Homo sapiens: one gene and its partner. The gene in region 2 interacts genetically with the main gene of each other region. Each region holds a gene or a part of one and is shown on either strand. Other genes may lie near its edges.

Region 1 (3,815 bases), about 90 Mb from region 2:
ATACATACATACCTATGCCACAACTATTATTTACTCTGAACAACAAGCTAGACACCTGTATGTTTCCAACTTTCTCTCTTTAATAAAAAATAGGTGAATAAATTAACAGGGACTCTTCTGCTTCCTGACCAATTCACAGTGCAGCCTACTCTTCTACTAGATGAAGACTAAAAATAATCTTGTGCAGCCTTTCTTTCCACTCCATCATCTAGTTTTTATTAAACAACATATGCAAAATGTTCACACCAGATTTTTTTTAAAGCAGACACCATGTTAAACTGCATATCCCTCTCACTTGACAGAATTTTTTACTTTTCAGAATTCTTAAATTGAAAAATGTAGGAATTAAGCGAAAAATGCCCATCAAACGAAAGGAGCTTTCCTGAACTTCCCAATGGAATCAGGGGGTGGGGTGTCCTGGTGTCAACTGTCTTGAGTGCCACTGTCCTCCTCATGTTGCCCCACTGCCCCACTTCCCTCACGGCATATACTTCCTGATGAATGTGGACATCCAGCTGGTGACTAACAACGAGCAGAATTTGGCCAGGTCCCCTATGCTGTACCCTGATATGCTAAGTTCAACATGTACTTATTGACTCAACAAACTGTAAGGAGGACTCATTATACGCAAGATAGTGGAGTACTTAAAAAAGGACCATGACAGCCGGTGTTCTCTAGGAGCTCACACTCTGGTTTAAATAATAATACAAGTTCCTAAGAACCCCAATTAAAAGCTCTCACCAAAGCAGCCACTGGGAATCTTACCACTGTCGTGAGACATGAGGAATTATCTGTTGTGCATTGCTGTCCATTCCATGGACTTGGCCTTAACATCACATGCTAGCTCCTCCCATCAAAGGTCACAGTATCGTATGTGGGCTTATTCAGGCAAAGCCATCTAGAAAATGACCTTCCTAGTTCATTAAGATGAAGAAAAAGGTGAAAAAGTTGCAAGTTCACTAGCAATTTGCTGAGTAGCTATAGTGCCCAACTCTGGGGGTGCTACTTCCACAGAAACTGTATTGGCAGTTTGAGGCTGGTAAAAAGGTTAGGCAAACTTCTAAAGACAGAGATTGCTACCTCTGGAGAGAAACAATATGTGAGGCCAACAAGACTGCCATAACCTTGAGTACTGTATTAATTTGTGGCTTTTATCATAGGTACCTGGGGCACATCAGAGATCTTGACAGACAACCAATCAGAACTTTCCTAACCCTGTGTGACTACAGAACTGAATGACTTCTTGTAGTTTTTCATTTCCCCACATTTGACAAATGAACTGTTGCACAACATAGATTTCCAACTCGAAAATGTGGTGATTCAGTGGTTTTTCACTGTTTACTTATTTATTTATAAGTACTGGCAATAACACAAGGAACCAATGATTTGAGCTCAGCCAATATTGTTATGTTCACTAGTACTGTCAATATTTACCCTAGGCCGGGTGTGGTGGCTCACGCCTGTAATCCCAGCATTTGGCGAGGCTGAGGCGGGCGGATCACAAGGTCAGGAATTTGAGACCAGCCTGGCCAACATGGTAAAACCCCATCTCTACTAAAAAGAAATACAAAAATTAGCCGGACATGGTGGTGTGCACCTGTAATCCCAGCTACTCAGGAGGCTGGGGCAGGAGAATTGCTTGAACCAGGGAGGTGGAGGTGGAAGTGAGCCGAGATCGTGCCACTGTACTCCAGCCTGGGTGACAGCAAGACTCCGTCTCAAAAAAAAAAAAAAAATTTACCCAACAAGAGCTTTTATGTTTTTCCCTTGAAATATATGATGATATATTTTTAGTTTGAGTAGCATATTTTTAGGGGTAGAACATAAGCTAACTTAAACTTTTCCCCATTGGGTGGGTCAGGCATGGTGGCTCATGCCTGTAAGCTGAGCACTTTGGGAGGCTGAGGTGGGAGGATTGCTTGAGCCCAGGAGTTTGAGACCAGCCTGGGAAACATGGTGAGACCTCAACTTTACAAAACATAAAAAAATTAGCCAGGTGTGGTGGCATGCACCTGTAGTCCCAATTGCTCAGGAGGCTGAGGTAGGAGGATCACTTGATCCCAGGAAGTTGAGGCTGCAGTGAGCTATGATCATGCCACTGCACTCTAGCTTGGGCAATAGAGTGACACCCTGTCTCTACTACTACTACTACTACTACTAATAATTTTTGCCACACTGAATTTTCACATACTAATTTTCCATTTTCTCCTCTTACTGTCTCCCTCTAATTCTCAAGCCAATTCCTTAGCACCAAAGAGAATTAAAATTGAGAAAGTTATGATTCTACAGAGGCAAAAGAGCAAGGGAATTATCCTTTGAAAAACTTAAAAAAAATTAATCTTCTGATTCTGACAGGATTGGATATGTAATTTTGACTGTATTTGCTAAACTCTTTTTTTTCTCCTTGGATACCAGTTTTTGAGAACAGGAGACTAGGGTTTTGGAAGCCACTACTCTAAAATAGCATCTGAACTCCTCCTAGGATCTGACTGGCAAAGCAAATAGTTAACAGCTGTGCTGACCTTTTGCTACTAAAATAGTTACTGGTGTGAAATAATATTACCTTATGATGGAAATGGGAGGAAATTAAGACAGAAGAAGGAATGGACAGATAGAAGATGAAGGGTATGGGAAAACAAGAGAAAACTATGTAGAAGGGGAATGAGAAAAATTCTATAGCAGAGGGAGAAACAAAAAAGTTTTCTGAACACATGGCCATCCTATTAGGTTCATATAAAAGTAACTCTGGGCTCTTTGTGAATAAGCATGCTTCAACACAGATTTTAATTTTGCATAGACCACGTCTATGTGATGCCATGCCCTGTTCCCTCTTGACTCTCTTTAGCTTCCTGGTGCCTCAAGGATCCTCTGCTTTTTATTTTTTCCCTTCCTCTTCTTTTTTGACTGCTCTGTTCCCTTAATAATTGATGTTCAGGTTATAAGTACCCATGATTATTAGCTATCCTCTTAAGAAATATCCTTTATAAATTTTGGGTTCTATGGCCTTTTAAAAACATCTTAATAATTAACTGGATATTTTTAATTTTAAGCTTTCTTTCTCCCTTTGTTCAGCTTTCAAAACGAAAATTCTCTTTTCTAAAACTGCCTCCTATTCCCTAGCCTTTGTTTTTCCTTCTAAGAACACTGATTTCTTCTGCTTCTTTTCCAATTTGCTAATGTAAGTTTCTAAGATTCAAATACAGAATGGAAAGTACACTTACCACATTAATAGGAGGTCTTTTGAAGTAAAATGGTAGTTTCTCTGTTACAGTTATGCAGACTAAATCCACATCTAAATGTGTGCAAGCAATCTGTAAAGAAGAAAAAAATAGGTAAGGCCAAAAGGAAAATTGGCACAAGTAAGAATGGGAGATAGGGTCAAACTCGATATAAAGTATGGTTCACTCCATAGGTGTTTTGATGGTTCTGTGTTGAAATACATCTGACCTTTTACAAAGTCAACTGTTTTGCTACTCTTTTAGGTTTGGTTTAAATGGTTTAACTGTAATCCAGCAAAAGCGGAATATGTCCACAGACTTTCTCAAAAGATAGGGCCTGGAGACTCTCTAACTCATATGGTCTTCTACATAAGGATGGGTTGCAGAGCGAGGCTCAGTTTCTGGAAGGTTACTTCAGACTGTCCCAGAAAGAAGAAACTGACTATTCTAAAACCCAAGGAAAAAATAAGCCAAATGGAATGTATGCATAGTCCATTTATCCCACACACTATTTATTGAGCAACTCTGTGCCAAGAATTGTCCCAGGGCTGTGGCTCCTATCAAGTCTACTGAGTAGCTAAAGAAATATGAACACAG
Region 2 (3,815 bases):
TGTGGTTGTTTCAAAGTCTTAAAAAACAGACATATCCTAAAAACAGTTATTTTCTTCATATTCTTCTATGATCAAGAAAACACAAATGACATCAAAAAGATGGCCGACTAGTAGCCCCTCACATCTGTCCCCCACAACAAAGGCAATCAGAATAACGAACAACTACATGTTAATAACTGAGGGGGAGCTCCAGAGGGCATCACAGGAGTAACAGGCACCCTGGGGAGCAGAAAAACGCAAGACGATGAAATACAGCCCAAAGAAAACACCAGGGGCCAGGCGCGGTGGCTCATGCCTGTAATCCCAGCCTTTGGGAGGCCGAGGCGGGTGGATCATGAGGTCAGGAGGTCAAGGTCACCCTGGCTAACATGGTGAAACCCTGTCTCTGCTAAAAATATAAAAAATTAGCCAGGCGTGGTGGCGGCCGCCTGTAGTCCCAGCTACTCGGGAGGCTGAGGCAGGAGAATGGTGTGAACCTGGGAGGTGGAGCTTGCATTGAGCAGAGATCACGCCACTGCACTCCAGCCTGGGGGACAGAGCGAGACTCCGTCTTAAAACAAACAAACAAACAAACAAACCAAAAAAAACACACTGGGCCGCCAGCAACCCACCCTACAGCTGGGATGCAACGGGACCCAGGAGGAGGTTCTCCCTACGGTGAGGGGGTAAGCAAGAGGATGGCAGCAGCCCTGCCACCACTCTGGACACCCACAGCCCTCACCACCGGAGCCCCCTGGCATCCTCACAGCTGTGCTCCCACACAGAAGGAGCTGACACTGGGCCCTGTCTGTTGGGCCCATGGGGCGGCTATACTCCATCATCTTGGGACTGGAACTGCGGCTGGAGTATGTCTTGCTCAGGGGAAGTGGCCACAGCTCCCCTTCATCCCTGAGGCTAAACTGCCTCCAAACTACCCAAACCTGGTGGCCCAACATCCCCAAGCCAGCTGTGAGCAGCTGCTACCCCTTCCCAGCAGGGCTTGGTGGAGGTGGAGCCCCTCTACTAGCCCTTGCTCTAGCACCCAACGGTACCCTGCCTCCTGGTAAATAGCACCGTGGCCTCTCAGGGAACGTTGTCTCCCTGCTGCCTGAGCTGAAGCAGTGCCCTGCTTCCTGGGAAATGCCCAGAATGGTCACATATCCCAGCGTCTATGCTGAAGAGGTACCTTGTATCCCAGGGCAACGGTGCCTGGGGCGCCCAGAAGAGTCACAACCCTCAGGCCCAGGCTGACCAGCCACATACCATGGGGAGGAGCTGACATTGTACTCCACACCCCAGGGAAACAGGGCAGGGGCTGAGCCGAGGCACCTGCCCCACCACGCAAACAGCTCCAGCACCTGCTCCCTGGAGCTGGACTAACCCTATATTCTGAGCTGCAGAGTCACCACTCTTTCCAGGAAATGGAGTCACTGCTGTCCTCCTCCCTGTCCTCTAGGGCCCAAATGACAGCTGGACTAGTCCATTCTGGGGTCCTTGCTGCCACCTCACCTAGCATCAGAGAGTCTGGGATACTGCTGGGCCCCACCATCCCAGGGTCCAGAGTTCCCCTTGAGCTGACACTAAGCCCTCCCTACTGGCTCAGGTTTCTGAAGTACAGCTCTACCCTGCTTCCCAGGCTCAAACCTCCAGAGTGCGTCTTCCCTGGAGTCAGGCCAGGACTGTGCCCTGACCCCACGGGTGGAGCCACAGCCACAGCCTTGCCCTGTGGGCTTAAGCTGCTAGGGGTGCTTCAGGATCAGAGATCCACCACAGAGAGTAAACCTGCACCCCAAGGCCAGGCCATGATAGGCACACAAGACCCTAAGGCTAGGACCCCAGTCCCACAGCTACCCTGAGTACCTGTAGCTGAAACCCAGCACTGTGGCAGCTGCTTGCAGACCATGTCAGACCTGACACCAAGAAAGATCCCCTCAGATAAGTCCCCCATTGCGGGAAAAACAAGAATAGCAGGACCCCAAAAGCCCCTGACACCAAGGACCTTAAAAACATACACCACCGCTGGCACAAACTTCCAGAGCTGAGGCCACTGAGCCACCCAGTTATTGCCAACATTTCATGGAGGTGAGGAAGCTGCACAGAAACAATGTCACTGCTCCTATCCAGAAAGTCACGGTTCTCTTCCCAAATGGCACAGTAAAACCCAAGTGAGGTGAAAACCTCTCCATGAAAGCCACTCTAGAAGAAAGTATAAAAGAGGCTCCTGTTCTACCAGATGCAGAGACATCAATGCAGGGACACAAGAAACATGAAAAAGCAAGGAAATAAGAAATCATGAAAGGAATATTAACTCTCTAGGAACAGACTCTAATGAAAAGGAAATCAATGAATTGCCAGAAAGAGAATTCAAAATAATAATTTTTTTGAAGGAAACTCAATGAGAAACAAAATACAGATAGATAATTCAACAAAATCAAGAAAACAATTTCATGATATGAACAAGAACTTAAACTGAGACAGAAATTGTAAAAAAGAGTCAAACAGAAATCCTGTAGCTGAAGAATTCAATGGATGAGATAATACAATAGACAGTTTTAACAGCACACTGGATGAAGCAGAAAAAAAATCTCTGTCATTTGAAACTACCTAGTCAGAGAGAAAAAAAGCAGGAAGAACGAAAAAGAATGAAGGAAGCCTATAAGATTTATGGGACAACATTAAGTGAATACATGCTGGCATTATGGGAGTTCAAGAAGGAGAAGAGAAGGGAAAAGGCTTAGTAACCTATTTAATGAGATAGCTGAAAACTTTCCAAGACTGGGGAGAGGTATAGACATCTAAAACCAGGAAGTTCAAGAATTCCCAAATAGAGTCAGCCCAGAAAGGTCTTCCCCAAGGCACATTATAGTCAAACTGTCAAAAGTCAAATATAAAGGAAATTCTAAAAACAGCTAGAGAAAAGCTTGAAGTCACATATAAGAAAATCCCCATTAGACTAACAGCAGATTTCTTTGCAGAAACCTTGCACGCCAGGAGACAATGGGATGATATATATTCAAAGTGTTGAAGAAAAAAAAGAAGACTGCCAGCCAACTATATTACATCCAGCAAAGCTATCCTTCAGAAATAAGGGAGAAATAAATTCTTTCCGAGAAAAGCAAAAACAGAGAATTCGTCACTACTAGACCAGCCTTACAAGATATACTTAAGAAAGTCCTACATCTGGAAGCGAAGACAATAATCACTATCATGAAAACATGAAAAAGTATCCAAGAAATTCACTTAACCTGTAAAGACATTAAGACACACATAGACTGAAAATGAAGAGATGCAAAAAGATATTCTACGCAGATGGAAACTAAAAGCAAGTAGGAATAGCTATACTTCTATCAGATAAAGCAGATTTTAAGTCAAAAACAATAAAAAGAGACAAGAAGGTCATTATATAATAATAAAAGGGGTCAATAATATTTGGGGACATCAACATCAGACTCGCAACATTAGACAGATCCTAGGCAAAAAAGAATCAACAAATACTGGATTTAAAGTGCACTGTAGGCCAGGCGCAGTGGCTCACGCCTATAATCCCAACACTCTGGGAGGCCAAGGTGGGCGGATCACTTGAGGTCATAAATTCAAGACCAGCCTGGCCGGTATGGTAAAACCCTCTCTACTAAAAATACAAAAAATTAGCTCGGTGTGGTGGCGCACGCCTGTAATCCCAGCTACTCAGGAGGCTGAGGCAGGAGAATCACTTGAACCTCAGAGGTGGAGGCTGCACTGAGCCGAGACCGTGCCACTGCACTCCAGCCTCAGTGACAGAGCGAGACTCCATCTCAAAAAAAAAACAAAAATAAAATAAAAAAAAAAGTGCACTG

Evidence for each region.
Region 1: changes in GTPBP4 (region 2) and RPP30 together harm fitness more than expected from each alone (negative genetic interaction), as found in Homo sapiens cells (one large-scale study listed by BioGRID).

Annotation. Positions count from the first base shown.
Region 1 is NC_000010.11:90,885,308-90,889,122, reverse strand, and holds part of RPP30 (ribonuclease P protein subunit p30), read right to left. Parts: intron 3,312-3,815; coding exon 3,222-3,311; intron 1-3,221. UniProt on the Homo sapiens protein: Component of ribonuclease P, a ribonucleoprotein complex that generates mature tRNA molecules by cleaving their 5'-ends. Also a component of the MRP ribonuclease complex, which cleaves pre-rRNA sequences.
Region 2 is NC_000010.11:1,001,902-1,005,716, reverse strand, and holds part of GTPBP4 (GTP-binding protein 4), read right to left. Parts: intron 1-3,815. UniProt on the Homo sapiens protein: Involved in the biogenesis of the 60S ribosomal subunit. Acts as a TP53 repressor, preventing TP53 stabilization and cell cycle arrest.